2 separate regions of the Homo sapiens genome follow, and region 1 is linked to region 2. Evidence: fine-mapped expression QTL. A gene starts in region 2. The other region holds a variant in brackets. All regions are shown on one strand. Distances are between the middles of the regions.

Region 1 (5,523 bases), 24 kb before region 2:
ACCCTGGCCTTCCAAATAATTTGCTTTTTAATGTGCAAATCTTAAATATGCTCAGATAGCCAAAGGCTACTGGATATTTTAGAAAAAATTTAATATGAAGTAAAGAAAACAAAGCAGGGAGGAAAAAATTGTCAAAAAATACATCATTCCTGTGAGACTACATCAAACAAAAAGCTTCTGCAGAGCAAAGGAAACAATCAACAAAATGAAAAGGTAACCTATTGATCAGGAGAAAATATGTGTGAACCATATATCTGATGAGTTAATATCCAAAATATATAAGGAACCCACACAACTCAATAGCAAAATAATAATAATCATAACCTAATTTAAAAATGGGCAAAGACCTGAATAGACATTTCTCCAATGAAGACGTAAAAATGTCCAACAGGTAGGAAAATGCAAATCAAAACCACAATGAGATATCACTTCACACCTGTTAAGATGGTCATTACCAAAAAGGCAAAAGATAACAAGTGTTGGTGAGGATGAGGAAGTAAGGGACCGCTTCCACACTGTTGATAAGAATGTAAACTGTAAAAATGTAAATTTTTACATTTTACATAAAAATGTAAAAATGTAAATTTTTAAGTAGTTTTGTAGAGACTCGATCTCACTATGTTGCCCAGGCTTGTTTCAAACTCCCGTCCTCAAGGGATCCTCTCACTTCTGCATCCCAAAGTGTTAGGATTGGAGGCGTGAGCCAAGTGCTCAGCCTATGTGGAATCTCAAAAGAGTTGAATACATAGAAACACAGAGTAGAACGGTGGTTCCCAGGGGCAGAGGAAGTAGACTGGAAATAGGGTGATGTCGATTGTTTTGAAAACACTCCCGAACCGGTTTTCCCTCTGCTCTCCCCCGACAACAATCAACACAGACGAGTTCTGTGACCCCAAAACATGCGGAGATTTCTCCCCACCTGCAAGCAAGCAAGCAAGCAAGCAAGCAAGCAATCATTTCAGCAGCAGACACCAGCTGGGTGTCCCCCAGTTGAGTTCTGACACGGTCTTCCTGGAGATAGCGTCAGATCCCACAGGTTGAGGGCTCTCCCCGCAAGACTGTCCGTCCCCTCCTTCCCTCCAGTTACAAGTCCGGGCCTTCGGAACTTCTGACTGACTAGCTTCAAGTTGGAGTTCCTATGAGTCCCTCTTTGGGTTAATTTGCTAGAGCGACTCACAGAACTCAGGGAAATACTTACCTTCACCAGTTTATTACAAAGTAGATTTTAAAAGATACAAATAAACAGCCAGATAACGACATACACAGGGCCAGCTCTGAAAGGGTCCTGAGTGCAAGAGCTTCTGTCCCTGTGGAGTTGGGGTGTGCCACCCTCCCAGCACACGAATGAGTTCTTCTTCACCTTCCTGTTGGCCTCCAAGTGTTCAGTTCCCCGGAAGCTCTCTGAACTCCCTCGTTTGGGCCTATTACGGAGACTTCATTGGTTGTTCATGGTTGAAGCACGAACAATCGTGGCGAAATGTGATTGGATAGCCGGGCGCGGTGGCTCAGGCCTGTAATCCCAGCACTTTGGGAGGCCGAGGCGGGTGGATTGCTTGAGGTGAGTAGTTTGAAACTGGCCTAACATGGTGAAACCCTGTCTCAACTAAAAATATAAAAATTAGCTGGGCATAGTGGCTGGCGCCTGTAATCCCAGCTACTCGGGAGGCTGAGGCAGGAGAATCGCTTGAACCCGGGAAGCAGAGGTTGTAGTGAGCTGAGACCACGCCACTGCACTCCAGCCCAGCAACAAAGCAAGATTTCGTCTAAAAAAAAAATTAAAAAATAAAAATAATTGATTGCACAAAAAGGGTGTGATCTAAACCCAGCAAGGTCTGTCTGTTCAGTTCAGATTCTTCTTGCTCTCCGTGCAGCATTCCTTCCTCCAGAGTATGCAGCAAGACCGTATCTGGAATGAGGGTCTTACGACCCACAATCAGATTCGAGTGCTGCCTTGGGACTCTAATGAAAAGAGGGCAGGAGAAGGTCAGAGGGAGTGATTCTGTCACTTGAGGCCTACTTATGAGTCTTAACAAAAGACCGTAACAAGGGCTATGGGAGTTATGAGCCAGGAACTGTGGATGAAAACATATATACATATTAGGCTGGTGCAAAAGTAATTGCAGTGTTTAAGTTCTGTGAGCTGCACAGTGGCTTGCACCTATATTCCCAGTGCTTTGGGAGGCCAAGGTGAAAGGCTTACTTGAGGCCAGGAATTCGAGACTAGCCTGGGCAACATAGCGAGACTCCTGTCTCCACGGATAATGAAAAAATTAGCCAGACATGGTGGTTTGCACCTGTAGTCCTAGCTACTCAGCAGGCTGAGGCAGGAGGACTGCTTGAGTCCAGGAGTTCAAGGTTGCAGTGAGCTATGATTGTGCCATTGCACTTTAGCCTGGGTGATGGCATGACCCTGTCTTAAAAAAAAAATTAATTAATTTAATTAATTAATCTTCCAGAAAAATCTTCCAGAAAGTAGGGCAAAAGACAATAATTTGAAAAATAAATGGAAAAGCTATGAAAACTTGTAGACCAGCCCAAGAGTCCTAAGATAGAGAGAAGGGAAAAAACAGAGTCAAGGATATTATCAAGAAATTGATTCAAGAAAATTTCCCAGCATATAAGTCTAAATTCTAAATTGAGCATCCATCACAATGGATGAAAAGGAATTCAAATTATTGTGAAAGTCTACAACAGTGGGAAAAAAAAAAGCCCCTATAAGCTTTTGTGATAAAAATGTCATACAAAACTGAAGAATCAGAAAAGTATTGGATAACTCAATGGCAACATTGGAAACTAGGAGACAATGGTCCAGTGGCATCAAAAGTTTGAGGAAAAATTATTTCCAATGTAGAGTAACACATTCAGCTAGACAATAAAATGCAAAAGTGAATAAAAATATTTTCAGGTGTTCAGAACCTGAGATTTTCCTAACATTCTCACCTCTTAAGATTTACTAGAGGACTGGCTCCACAAAAACAATGGAATAAACTGAAAATGGAAAGTATGGTGTTCAGGGAACAGGGGAGCCAATATGAGAAAAAGTAAAAAGAATCCACAGGGTGAGAGGGAAAGGAGGCCCCAAAACAAGGGCTGTGCAGTAGGTGCAATGAGCAACTAGACAGAATTGAGCAGGCATGGAGAATGTGGGGAGATTTTCTTCAATAAGTTGCAAATGATAAAATACCTAGAACATGTTGAAAATAATTTACTAATCGGGGTGGGGGGAGATTGGGCTTGAAATACTAGAAAATACATAGACAACTAAGCAAGTTAAAAAAAAAAAAAACTAATTCCAGGAAAAGAATAATCATGGTGATATGGGTTGGCTGTGTCCCCACCCAAATCTCATCTTGAATTGTAGTTCCCATAATCCCCACATATC[G/A]TGGGAGGGACACAGTGGGAGATAATTGAATTACGGGGGCGGTTACCTCCATGGTGTTCTTGTGAGAGTGAGTGGGTTCTCAAAAGATCTGATGGTTTTATAAGGGTTTTCCCCTCTTTTGCTTGGCACTTCTTGCTGCCACCATGTGAAGAAGGACATGTTTGCTTCCCTTCCACCATGATAGTGAGTTTCCTGAGACCTCCCCAGCTCTGTGGAACTGTGAGTCAATTAAACCTCTTTCTTTTATAAATTACCCAGCCTCAGGTATGTCTGTAACGGCATGATAACAGACTAATACACATAGTATATTACAATTTCCTATTCTGTGCGGATAAGGAATCTTAGTATACTACGTATTCTCCTGTGAGTAGCATTTTCATAATACTGAAAATCCTGAATACGGAACTAGCCAAGGTTACAATATATCTATATGGAGAAATGTATGTGTGCGTATGTGTGGTGGGGGTGGCAAAAGGAGCTAAATTCTCAGCTTCCATGGTGAGTTATCAAAACAAAATACCTGAAGCTAACCAAGAAATAACAATAAAAACATGTTATTGAGGGATATAGAGCCATAAAATAAAATAATCAGCTGAAGGAATTGAACCTTGAACAAGCCAAGCAACACATATAAAAATGAACTTTAAAAAATAACAGTGAGCCGGGTGCAGTGGCTCACGCCTGTAATCCCAGCACTTTGGGAGGCTGAGGCAGGTGGGTCACGAGGTCAAGAGATTGAGACCATCCTGGCCAAAATGGTGAAACCCCGTCTCTACTGAAAACACAAAAATTAGCCGGGCGTGGTGGCAAGTGCCTGTAGTCCCAGCTACTCGGGAAGCTGAGGCAGGAGAATCACTTGAACCCGGGAGGCAGAGGTTGCAGTGAGCTGAGATTGCACCACTGCACTCCAGCCTGGTGACAGAGTGAGACTCCGTCTCAAAAAAAAACAAACAAAAAAAACTACACAGCAATGAAATCAGCCAGCCAGGAGATGAATTTTTTAAAATTGTGGGCCGGGTGTGGTGGCTCACACCTGTAATCCCAGCACTTTGGGAGGCCAAGGCGGGTGGATCATCTGAGATCAGGAGTTTGAGACCAGTCTGACCAACATGGAGAAATCCCATCTTTACTAAAAATACAAAATTAGTCAGGCATGGTGGTGCATGCCTGTAATCCCAGCTACTCGGGAGGCTGAGGCAGGAGAATGATTTGAACCCAGGAGGAGGAGGTTGCAGTGAGCCAAGATCACACCGCTGCACTCCAGCCTGGGCGACAGAGTAAGACTCTGTCTCAAAAAAAAAAAAAAAAAAAGTGTTTAAAAAAGAAACATCCTTGGAACACTAGAGGGCATTGGAAAATAAGAAATAAATACAAATTTAAAAGAGAAACATCTTGAGGTTTAGCAGTTTCTTCTATTTTATTTCAATTTCTTACCTTCTATTAAATTCAAGTAAAATTGCATGTAATACCTTTTATTTTAAGTGGCTTATTGCATGATAAGCCAATAAGCATTTTACAAAATTCTTTCTGTCTACCTTTCCTCTATGCATCTATATATTTCAATTCACCAATCCCTCTGTCCATCAAGAAGTTCTAGATGTGATGCTCATCTAGTGTTACTAAACATTACTTCTAAATTACAGTGATATCATAAAATTCTTTTTTGTATTTATCTGTGTTGCTTAAATTTTTACAAGTATGTTTCTTTTCAGTAAAGTCAAAGCCATTCTATTTTAAAATATTAAGAGATTTCAAGCTCACAAAAGGTCACAAGAGTATGTTAAAACAACACAAGAGTGTTCTAAACAACGTCATACTGAACAGGCAAAAACTGGAAGCATTCCACCTGAGAACTGGAACAAGGCAAGGATGCCCACTCTCATCACTCCTATTTCAAGTAGTACTAGAAGTGCTAGCCAGAGCAATAAGGCAAGAGAAAGATAAAAGGCATTCAAATAGGAAAAGAATTCAAACCATCTCTCTTTATGGAAAATGTGATCCTATAGCTAGAAAATCCTGAAGATTCTGCCAAAAGGCTCCTGGAACTGATAAAAACTTCAGTAAAGTTTCAGGATACAAAATCAATGTACAAAATAAATAGCATTTCTATATACCAGTTACGTTCAAGCTGAGAGCCAGAG
Region 2 (5,000 bases):
ATTGTGAAAAAGTAGTATGAATTCCTAAGTCTAGACCAAAGCTGTCCAATAAATATATAATGCTCCAAAAACATAATTTAAAATTTTCTAGTAGCTGTATTTAAAAAGTAAAAGAAACTTCTGGTATTAATTTTAATATATTTTCTTCAATATAGCCAAGTTATTTCATGTGTAATCAATATAAAATTGAGCTATTTTATCTTCATTTATTAAATCCACGAAATTTCGTGTATATTTTAAACTTAGAGCACATTTCCATTTGGACTAGTCACGTTTCAAGTGTTCTTACCGGCTAGCGGCCGGGCAGCAGAGATCTAGGCAAACCGAGGCATACCTAGATCTTCTCAGGATTCTTACATGCAGAGATGAGGCAGGCTCATGTCTTGAATAAAAACCCGCCAATGATTCTCATATACGCCTTAAGGCCCAAATTAATTTTCTTTTTTCTTTCTTTTCTTTTCTTTTTTTTTGAGACAGCGTCTCACTCTGTGGCCCAGGCTGGAGTGCACTGGCCCAATCTCAGCTCACTGCAACCGCCATCTCCCAGGTTAAAGTGATTCTTGTGCCTCAGCCTCCCGAGTAGCTGTGATTACGGGCATACACCACCACACCCAGCTAGTTTTTGTGTTTTAATAGAGACAGAGTTTCACCCTATTGGCCAGGCTGGTCTCGAACTCCCGACCTCAGGTGATCCACCCGCCGTGGCCTCCCAAAGTCCTGGGATTCCAGGCGTGAGACACCACGCCCCGCCCCCAAATTAATTTTCAATGATACTTTTGCCTAGGATCAGATTTAACACTATGAGTTAAAACAAAGCTTTGACCAAGGTACGGTGGTCCATCCTTTTCTCCAGAAGCTGTACCAGCCGGTAGGACGTTCAATTAATCAATGGCTACCACACTGGTCTCCCTCTAGAAAAAGAACTCTATCCCGAATTCTAGACTAATCATCGTTAAACCCAGGAAGGCCCTCTACACCTTTATCTGTCGTTTGTCTTTGGGCTGAACCTATGCCCTGACGGTCTGCGTTCTCGCCATGCTCACAGCCCGCCACGACCCACGGTCCCGTTTCCCTTTTACGGAGCGCGGCGCTGACGCCGCAAGGCCACTTCTATCGCTCCCGACCACGGTCTGTTTCCCCCTCGCCCAGCCCAGTGCTTTCTGCCCATCGGACTCTCGGGGTGTGCTTCTGGCGGTCGGCGTCCTCTCCCGGAGCGGTGACCCCTTCTTTCAACCCCCTCAGGCGTCTTAACCTACACAAGTCATGAGTGGGAACCGGGGCGTTTTGTGTGTGTGGGGAAAAGGCAAGCCCCTTCGCCCCTCAGCCCACCCGCCCCCAGCCCCTACCTGGCGCGATGCGACCCCCCAGTCTCCCCGCGGGGGTCCTGCGCGCCCCGCCCCGTCGTCGCCACCGCCCCCCGGGAGCCGGGCGCCCGGGAGCTCCTCCCCCGGCCCCGGCAGTACGGGCGGCGGCGGCAGCGGCGGATCGCCTGTCTCCAGACCGTGGTCCTCACGCTCCTGGCCGCTCGGGGCGCTGTTGTCCCCGCTGTCACGGCGCTTGCTGGGCGAAGCCGAGGGCTCTGCCATGGTCCCTGCGTCGATTTTGCGCTTTCGGTGCTGCTCTGGGACGCCGAGGAGCTGCCCAGCATGCGCGACCCCGGGCGGCCGGATCCAGAGAGGCGGTGGCGGCGGCTGCTCAGCGAAGTCGCAAAGCAGGAGCCGCTTCCAAGGCACGTGGAACGTCACCGGCTCGGCCGCACGCCGCTTGGCCATGGGCCCAGAGGCTCGGGCGGAGCCCGCCAGGCGCGGGAGACCGAGTGCCGATAGCTGCGGGGGGCGAAGAGCGAGGACTGAGCGCGTGAGAGAGGGACAGGCCGAAGTCGGGCGAGGAGGCGACAGGACGCTGGAGGGGGTAGGGCGGGGCAGCTCGCGCAGGGCCTAGGGCTGGGGCTCCGGCTCGGAGGCAGCTCCCGCGCTCAGCCCTCGCCGCCGCCGAGATGCGGCCCGGACGTTGAGAAGCAACCGCGAAGCGGCGGAGATTCGAACCTGCGCACAACGTGCGCGCGCGCACTCTGTCTGGCCAGGCGGAGCCGCTGGTTGGTGGAGGCTCGCGGGGCGCGCTCCCGAGCGCCCTCGCGACCGGAAGTGCGCGCTCGGGGGTAGGCGGGAAGGCCGCGGCGGGATTAATTAAAGACCCGATCAAGCGGCCCGCAGAGGGGCGTGACCTTGTTTCCTCAGGAGTGTGGCGGTGGTCTTACTACTATGTTCGTTATAGCGCGGTACGTTCTAGACCCTTCTATAGGAAATTTAAAACCTTTAAAATGTGTATTTCCTTCCTCCAGTCAGTGACCACGGGGGCGTCTCCATGAGATTAAGACAAAGATTATAATAGAGTTCCAGACTATCCTGGGCAACATAGCAAGACCTCGTCTCTACAAAAAATCAAAAATAGGCCAGGCTTGTTGGCCTGCCCCTGTGGTCCCAGCTACTCGGGAGGCTGAGGAGGAAGATTCACTTGAGCCTGGGAGGTGGAGGCTGTAGTGAGCCAGAGATCGCACCACTACACTGCAGCCTGGGCAACAGAGCGAGATGCCGTCTCAAAAAAAAAAAAAAAAAAAAGGAAAAGGATAATACAAGCTTTAAATAAAACTAGTGTTTAAGAAGCTTCACAGTAGGTTGTTATTCAAAACAAAAGACTGAAGGGAGTCTGGGCTGAGGGAAGTAGCTAAAGCTAACAGAAAACACAAATCGAAGTGTATGTTTTGCATGTTTTGCGCAGCTGCTGTGGAAGGTGAAGCAGGCCCTACATTCCTGGAAGATCTCTTGATTAAAAACTTATGGAGGAAGTTACAGACAAAATGTGCAGCTCATCCAAAATAGCTGAGTAGTTGGCAAGAACCAAGCCTGAAGCGCAGCTGTCCTTTCTAACTGAAACCTAAAATTGTTGGGCTCTTAATTAATGTTGGAAGGCTGAGTTCCCTGCTTACTATGGGCGGTGGTCAGATCAAGATTCTATGGCCATTACAGCAAAATAGTGTTGTCAGGTGAAGTGAGGTGGAGACAATTGCAGTATATTTACTATTTTATTATTTTTATTTTTTATTTTGTTTGAGACAGGGTCTCTCTCGGCCACCTAGGCGGGAGTGCAGTGGTGCCATCACGGCTCACTGCAGCCGGGCCCCACTGAGCTCAAGCGATCTCCTGTCTGGGCCTCCCAAAGTGCTTGGTTTATAGGTGTGAGCCACCGCATCTGGTCGTATTTACTATTTTAATAGTTTGATAAAGACAGTAACCAAGTAAGCAGAAATGGAAGGAAGAAAATAAGACTATTACCAGTGCTTTGAAGGGAAAAACTATCATCCTCTGTAGAAAAAGTGTGCAAGAAAGATAATTCTATTTTAGTGCTAGGTACTATCTCAGTACTAATTTACCCTGTACCCCTGCATCTCAAGGTGGTTGTGAGAGGACAAGTTAATTATTAGTTATTAACAAGCACAGAAATGTACCAAGTTAGGGTAGTAAGCAATAGCTTTTCTGTTTGGTTTTTACTTTTCTTGTTTGAAATTGGTAACCGGCCGGGTGCGGTGGCTCACGTCTTTAATCCCAGCACTTTTGGGAAGATGAGGTGCACAGATCACCTGAGCCCAGGAGTTCCATACCAGCCTGGCCAACATGGTGAAACCCCATCTCTACAGAAAATACAAAAATTAGCCAGAGGTGGTGCCTTGCACCTGTAGTCCCAGGGAGGCTGAGGTGGGAGGATCGCTTGAACCCTGGAGGCAGAGGCCAAGATTGCACCACTGTACTTCCAGCCTGGGTGACAGTGTGAGACCCTGTCTCCAAAAAAAAAAAAATAAATTGAAAACCCGTCTGTCTCAAACAGAGGAAGAGTTTTGCCATTTTTAAATCAGCAGGAAAGATCTTAATCGTAGTCATCAAGTGCTGTTTGAAAGGTTTTGAGTACCCCCAAAATAATAAGTTTAGCTAATGGTTGGTTCTTTTGTGTTCCTCTTTACAAACGCTCATTTTTTCAAAATTGTGAAACTTATCATATATGCAAAAGGTTGTATAAAATACACATGTAGTTAAAAGAATGATAGTAAGACATACAGCATTCTGTTTCAGAAATAGAATACTACCTATACTAGAACATGACAAGCTCCCTATGCGTCCCTTCCCCACTGGCACATACCCTTCCCTTTCCCTCACTCCCGGTAATTACCGTTTTACATGTTGAGTTAATCATTCCTTTGCTTTTTAACTCTTCCATTTGTATGTCTGTATGTATATTGCTAAATAACTTTTTTTTTTTTTTTTTTGAAACGGGGCTTGCTCTGTTGCCCTGGCTGGAGAGCAGTGATATGATTACAGCTCACTGCAGCCCTGACCTCTCAGGGGCAAGCAGTCCTCCCACCTCAGCCTCCTGAGTAGCTGAGACTACAGGTGTACATCACCACACCCAGCTAATTTTTAAAATTTTTTTGTAGAGCCAGGGTTTTGCCACGTTGCCCAGACTTGTCTCAAAGTCCTGAACTCAAACAATCTGCCTGCCCTGGCCTCCCAAAGTGTTGGGATTACAGGCATGAGCCACCACACCCAGCTTAATATATTTTCTGAGACCAGGTCTTGCTCTGTTGCCCAGGCTGGAATGTAGTGGCGTGATCACTGCTCACTGCAGCTTCAACTTCCTGGCCTCAAGCAATCCTCCTGCCTCAGCCTCCCAAGTAGCTGGGCCCATGGCTTGTGCCACCACACCCAGCTAATTTTTTATTTTTAGTAGCAACAAGGTCTCACTATGTTGCCCAGGCTTGTTTTGCCGGGCTTTTTTTTGTTTTTGTTTTTAAAACAGCTTTACCTAGGTCTAAATGACACACAATAATGTGCATATAAAGTGTACAATTTGACATTCATACACCTGTGAAACCATAACCACCATCAAGATGATCAAAGTTTTGAGAGCAGTCTTTGACATCTTGTTCTTTAGGAGTGTGTCAACTATAC

What was found. PIP is the estimated chance that this variant, and not a neighbour inherited with it, causes the effect.
Region 1: its variant is the best candidate, but not a certain one, in a credible set for the expression of C9orf40 in monocytes (BLUEPRINT, PIP 0.59).

The regions. Positions count from the first base shown.
Region 1 is chr9:74,926,612-74,932,134 of GRCh38, forward strand. No RefSeq gene overlaps it. Among named protein-coding and RNA genes, the nearest start is that of C9orf40, 24 kb to the right of the region's middle. The variant G/A (reference allele first, on the strand shown) is at 3,383.
Region 2 is chr9:74,950,840-74,955,839 of GRCh38, forward strand. It overlaps C9orf40 (chromosome 9 open reading frame 40), which reads right to left and starts at 2,073. Exons shown (of 2, transcript NM_017998.3): 1 at 1,347-2,073. The coding sequence starts at 1,772. CARNMT1-AS1 (CARNMT1 antisense RNA 1) reads left to right here and starts at 2,126. Exons shown (of 5, transcript NR_121183.1): 1 at 2,126-2,278. RefSeq lists an enhancer at 965-1,034 and silencers at 1,365-1,574, 1,845-2,054.